2 linked regions of the Homo sapiens genome follow. The protein of the gene in region 1 purifies or fractionates together with the protein of each later gene. This does not show direct contact. Each region holds a gene or a part of one and is shown on either strand. Other genes may lie near its edges.

Region 1 (2,923 bases):
ATTCCCTTCCATCCGTCTATCCACCTGCTTCCAACCAACAAACCAATCAACCAACCATCCATCCCTTCCAACCAAGAACCATCCACTCATCCATCCCTTTCCAACCATCCATCTTCTTCCAACCATCCATCCCCTTCCAACCAACCAACCAACCATCCATCCCCTTCTAACCACCTCATCCAACCAACCATCCATCCATCCCTTTCCAACCATCCATCCACCCATCCATCTCCTTCCCCCCATCCACCCTCTTCCAACTAACCATCTCCTTCTAACCACCCCTTCTGACCAATCAACCATCCATCCATCCCCTTCCAAGCAACCACCTCCTTCCAACCAACCATTCATCCATCCCCTTCCAACCAACCAACAAACCAATCATCTATCTATCCAACCATCTCCTTCCAACAAATCAACCATCGATTTATTCCCTTTCAACCAACCATCCATCCATTATCTTCTACCCATCCATCCAATTCTCTTACAACTGATAATTCGTTTTTCAGAAACAGATCTATTTTCCATCTGCTATATACCACCCCTTCCAACCACTCTCTCACTTATCTGCCCACCCCATCATACCCTTCCCAGCACTTTGGGAGGCTGAGGCAGAAGAACTGCTTGAGCCCAGGAGTTTGAGTCCAGCCTGGGTAACAAGTGAGATCCTGCCTCTTAAAAAAGAAAAAATGGCCAGGCGGGGTGGCCCACACCTGTAATCCCAACACTTTGGGAGGCCGAGGCAGGTGGATCACCTGAGGTCAGGAGTTCAAGACCAGCCTGACCAACATGGTGAAGCCTCGTCTCTACTAAAAATACAAAAATTAGCTGGGCGTGGTGACATGTGCCTGTAATCCCAAGTACTCGGGAGGTTGAGTCAGAAGAACCGCTTGAACCTGGGAGGCAGAGGTTGCAGTGAGCAGGGATTGCACCATTGCACTCTAGCCTGGGCAACAGAGCGAGACTCCTTCTCAAAAAAAAAGAAAAAGAAAAAAAATTAGCCAGGCATGGTGGTGTGTGCTTATAGCCCCAGCTACTTGGGAGGCGGAGGTGGGAGGATTGCTTGAGCCCAGGAGTTGAAGGCTGCAGTGAGCTGTGATGGTGCCACTGCACTCCAGCCTAGGTGGCAAAGTGAGACTCTAAAAAAAAAATCTCTTTTTTAACTAATAAGAAAACTAAAAGAAAAAAGAATCAGACCTTGACCATTATACTGAAGAAAAAAAATTGCAAGAAAATCCCAAATTATTGTTGGTCAGTGCACTGGTTTCCATGAACTGTTTCCCATTTTAATTTAATGGCCAAAGAGCTGCTATTAAATCAATCACATGCCTCACTGTTCAACACACCGCATCTTAGAATTACAAAACAGATTTGCTTACATCAGATGTAAAACTTGAACGGCATTTTGTATTTTATGTGCATTCTCAAGTGACCAGACTTAACCCACAAATAGAGCGCCGTGTGCTCCTCGATTGGACAACCAATGTAACATGGCCGGGAAAGGGCAGTTGCTGGAACCAGGGCGAGGGAGGAAGGGTCACTACGGTGTTTAGGCACTAAATGCCCCCAAAGTACAGGGAAGTGTTTGATTCCATCAAGAAAGCACCATTGATACTGAGCGCAGCGGACTAGGAAATCGCTAACGTGGTAAAAAAAAAAAAGCAAGAAACGAATGAGAGGGTAGATGGGTAGGGATTCATGCAGACTTCCCTGGAGGCCTCAGAGAACCCTGGGACACAATGAAGGTTGCAGAGCTGTCACAACTTGTAGCATCTGGGGCTGGGGTGGAGCGGGGGCAGGTTCTTGATCTGCCATGCTTGTCAAGACGATGAGCCAGCAGTTATCAGACACCAGCCCTGGCCCTGCCCAAGCGACCTAGGAAGCTTTTCTCCGAGCCATGGCTCTCTGTCCTTGCACACCATGTTGTCTTTCTGGCCCTTGAGTGGAATGGAAAAGGCCGTGTGCTCCCTGCTAGCCTGGGGATTCACCGGGCACGGCCTTGTCTGCTTGGGCAGCGTCCCCAGGCTGGCACTGCCTGATGCTGATGCCCCAGCCACACCTGCAAACTCTTCCCCCTTTCCCAGCAATGTCCCATGGGGTCTGGCTGGGCCCTAAAAAGCAGGATCTAGGGCACGTCATATCACTGCTGCTAACGACGATGGCTGGATCCCAGAGATCCACCCGGGGATCTCGGAAGGACACACACTCACCAATTTTTTGTCCATTTTTGCTTTGATATCTCTGGCGAGAGTGAAAAATGCCTGTGGAATAAGCACATTGTGAGTCCTTGGGATGGCAGGACCCTGAGTCCTCAGCCGCCCGTGTACAGCGGGTGTGGTGAGACAGCTTCCCAGGCGTGGGCCTCCCATTTGGCCCTTTGATGCCCGCCTCTGGCAGTGGGTTCATCTGGCCTGTCCGGCCCCAGCTCATCCTTCCCCGGCTCCCTCTGCCTCCCACCCACCCTTACTCTCTGACATCAACTCTCACTTCCGCAGAGCACCTTAGCATTGACGGGACTTTACGCATGTGCCACCTCCCCTAAGCCCTGTGAGATGGGGCGACACTCAGTTGGCCAGAGAGGAAACTGAGGCTCAGAGAGGCCAAGTGACTTGTCCAAAGGAACCCAGCAGTTAACCGACCAATCCAGAAGGATCTAGGAGTGCCCAGTTCTTTGTCTCTGACTCCTAGGTTCTGTCAGCTCTGGCCTCCCTTCTGATGGTCAGGGAAAAAGGCAAGCAGCTCTGTGGCCAAACAAGCTTCACTCGGAGTCCTTGCCTGGCAGGGCTGGGAGCGGGAGCAGGTTCATCTCCCAGCACAGCCAAGGGTTGAGCTGCTGTCACAGCCTTGAGGAGGGGACATACAGAGATGGCGGGAGGCGTGATCCCAACATACATCCCCATGATGTGGGAGGTTCTGGAGAGGAGAG
Region 2 (3,500 bases), on another chromosome or scaffold:
CATCACCCCTGAGGGCCTGGAGATCCTGCTGCCCTTCGTGCTCTCACTCATGTCCGAGGAGCACACAGCTGTGTACACGGCCTGGTATCTGTTTGAGCCTGTTGCCAAGGCACTGGGCCCCAAAAATGCCAATAAGTACCTCCTGAAGCCGCTCATTGGTGCCTACGAGAGCCCCTGCCAGCTACACGGCCGCTTCTACCTGTACACGGACTGCTTTGTGGCCCAGCTGATGGTGCGGCTGGGCCTGCAGGCATTTCTCACTCACCTGCTGCCCCATGTCCTGCAGGTGCTGGCGGGCGCAGAGGCCTCCCAGGAGGAGAGCAAGGACCTGGCAGGGGCTGCTGAGGAGGAGGAGAGCGGGCTGCCCGGGGCCGGGCCTGGCTCCTGTGCTTTTGGGGAGGAGATTCCCATGGATGGGGAGCCTCCTGCCTCCTCGGGCCTGGGGCTCCCAGACTACACGTCTGGCGTCAGCTTCCACGACCAGGCTGACCTCCCTGAGACAGAGGACTTCCAAGCCGGGCTCTATGTGACTGAGTCTCCCCAGCCCCAGGAGGCTGAGGCTGTGAGCCTGGGCCGGCTGAGTGACAAGAGCAGCACCAGCGAGACCTCCCTGGGTGAGGAGCGGGCTCCAGACGAGGGGGGTGCCCCCGTGGACAAGAGCAGCCTTCGATCAGGTGACAGCAGCCAGGACTTGAAGCAAAGCGAGGGCTCCGAGGAGGAAGAGGAGGAGGAGGACAGCTGCGTGGTGCTAGAGGAGGAGGAGGGGGAGCAGGAGGAGGTCACCGGGGCATCTGAGCTCACTCTGTCTGACACGGTGCTGTCCATGGAGACGGTTGTGGCCGGCGGCAGTGGGGGAGATGGAGAAGAAGAGGAGGAGGCACTGCCTGAGCAGTCAGAAGGCAAAGAACAGAAGATCCTCCTTGGTAAGTTCCCAGGTCTGGGAGGTGTTGGTCAAAAACACCTCCTGCTGGCCGAGCACAGTGGTTCACGCCTGTATTCCCAGCACTTTGGGAGGCTGAGGCGGGCGGATCACAAGGTCAGGAGATCGAGACCATCCTAATAACAAGGTGAAACCCCGTCTCTACTAAAAATACAAAAAAATAGCCGGGCGTGGGGGCAGGCACCTGTAGTCCCAGCTACTCGGAAGGCTGAGGCAGGAGAATGGCGTGAACCCGGGAGGCGGAGCTTGCAGTGAGCCGAGATCGCACCACTGCACTCCAGCCTGGGCGACAGAGCGAGACTCCATCTCAAAAAAACAAAACAAAACAAAAAAACAGCTCCTGCTTCTCCCTGCACACTGGCAGAGCACCTACTCTGTGCCAAGCAGTGGATCGAGCCAGGACCACCGGCAACACAAATGTAGGCCTGCCTTCACAGAGCTCACACCCAGCAGACGAGATGCCGCAGTGCAGACAGTCTTAAGCAAGTGTATTATGTTAGTGCGATAAAGAACATGGCTGCATTCCTAGGAGGGAGTGCAACATGGAGCTTTTCGGCCGGGCGCCGTGGCTCACGCCTCTAATCCCAGCACTTTGGGAGGCCGAGGCAGGAGGATCACTTGAGGTTAGGAGTTCGAGACCAGCCTGGCCAACATGGTGAAACCCCATCTCTACTAAAAATACAAAAATTAGCCAGGCGTGGTGGCGGGCACCTGTAATCCCAGCTATTCAGGAGGCTGAGGCAGGAGAATTACTTGAACCCAGGAGGTGGAGGTTGCAGTGAGCTGAGATCACACCACTGCACTGCAGCTTGGGCAACAGAGCGGGACTCCGTCTCAAAAAAGAAAAAAAAAATGGTGCTTTTACATCTAGTTTTCAAGGGTCAGAGCAGGCTTCCTTAAAAGGAGAGACAGTTGAGGTTCAAGGAGGAGTAGGAAGAAGGTAGACAAAAATGGGCAAAAAGAAAGTCTGAAGGCTGAGGGAACAGCATGTGTGAGGCTCTGAGGCTGTCATGTTCCATTAAAGAAGAGAAGCGGGGGACCGGGCGCGGTGCTTCACGCCTGTAATCCCAGCACTTTGGGAGGCTGAGGCGGATGGATCACAAGGTCAGGAGATTGAGACCATCCTGGCCAATATGGTGAAACCCCATCTCTACTAAAAATACAAAAACTTAGCTGGGCATGGTGGAGGGTGCCTGTAATCTCAGCTATTTGGAAGGCTGAGGCAGGAGAATCGCTTGAACCCGGAGGTTCAAGGAGGAGAGTCAGGGCGGTGGAAGGTGGAGGTTGCAATGAACTGAGATTGTGCCATTGCACTCCAGCCTGGGCAACAGTGCGAGACTCTGTCTCAAAAAAAAAAAAAAAGAAGAAGAAGAAGAAGAGAAGCAGGGAAAGGCCGTTATGGCGAGACCGAGGGAGTGGAGGGAAGAGAGGCCAGAGGGAAGGTGGCCAGGGCCGGGCCAGGCCTTGTTAAGGAGTTTCAGAAGACCCACGGGCAGGCTAACTTCCTGCGGGTCGTGCCTGTGGAGAGGAACCTGCGGCAGCCAGAGTCCCACAGGCCAGGGCCTGGGCACCTCTGCCGCTGTTACGTGGAGGGGGTGGTGTGGGACAGCCGGCCCGGGCTGGGCTCTTGGCAGAGCTGCAGCCGCAGGTGGTTGAGTGGGGTGCCGTGGGGTGGGGTGGGAGGGGTGATGAGCCCCTGTTATCTGAGGAGCTCAGGGCCTGCTCCCACCCCGCAGATACAGCCTGCAAGATGGTCCGCTGGCTGTCTGCCAAGCTCGGCCCCACAGTGGCCTCTCGCCACGTGGCCCGGAACCTGCTCCGCCTGCTGACGTCTTGTTATGTTGGTAAGGAGGCCTGCGGTCAGTGCTGGAGATGAGGCTTTCTCCCAGGCCCTCTGCCTAGCTTCAGCGCTCTCCGGCGGGGATCCTTCCCACCCCTCCCTCAAACCACCCCCCGGCCAGGTGCTGGGTCCCAGTCTAAGTGCCAGCCTTGGGTAGGGCCAGGCTGGGCCCCCAGCTAGAGTGAGCTCAAGCGGCCAGCACAGCCCTGCAGGGCCAGGCTACCCCCGGCCCTCCACTGGCGACTCAGGGCTGCTGGCCCTTCCGTGGCAGGACCCACTCGGCAGCAGTTCACAGTGAGCAGTGGCGAGAGCCCACCGCTGAGCGCCGGCAACATCTACCAGAAGAGGCCGGTCCTGGGCGACATCGTGTCAGGGCCTGTGCTCAGCTGCCTCCTCCACATCGCCCGCCTGTATGGGGAGCCTGTCCTCACCTACCAGTACCTGCCCTACATCAGCTACCTGGTCAGTCGCTGGTTTGGCAGGCCCGGGGCTGGGAAGGCTGAGGACCTGAGGGCCGGCCCGGGCTCTCTTGGTGCCAGGGGGTCTGTGGGGCTGCCCGGCCCTCATCTGCTCGGTGGCTCTAGGTGGCCCCAGGGAGTGCCTCAGGCCCCAGCCGACTGAACAGCCGTAAGGAGGCGGGGCTGCTGGCCGCGGTGACGCTGACTCAGAAGATCATCGTGTACCTCTCAGACACCACACTCATGGACATCCTGCCCCGGA

What was found. Proteins that work in one complex are often made in the same cells at the same time.
Region 2: the proteins of RAB8A (region 1) and WDR81 purify together in Homo sapiens (co-immunoprecipitation; 2 studies listed by IntAct). This does not show direct contact.

Annotation. Positions count from the first base shown.
Region 1 is NC_000019.10:16,128,889-16,131,811, reverse strand, and holds part of RAB8A (ras-related protein Rab-8A), read right to left. Parts: intron 2,259-2,923; coding exon 2,208-2,258; intron 1-2,207. UniProt on the Homo sapiens protein: The small GTPases Rab are key regulators of intracellular membrane trafficking, from the formation of transport vesicles to their fusion with membranes.
Region 2 is NC_000017.11:1,727,704-1,731,203, forward strand, and holds part of WDR81 (WD repeat-containing protein 81), read left to right. Parts: coding exon 1-923; intron 924-2,676; coding exon 2,677-2,784; intron 2,785-3,051; coding exon 3,052-3,242; intron 3,243-3,364; coding exon 3,365-3,500. UniProt on the Homo sapiens protein: Functions as a negative regulator of the PI3 kinase/PI3K activity associated with endosomal membranes via BECN1, a core subunit of the PI3K complex.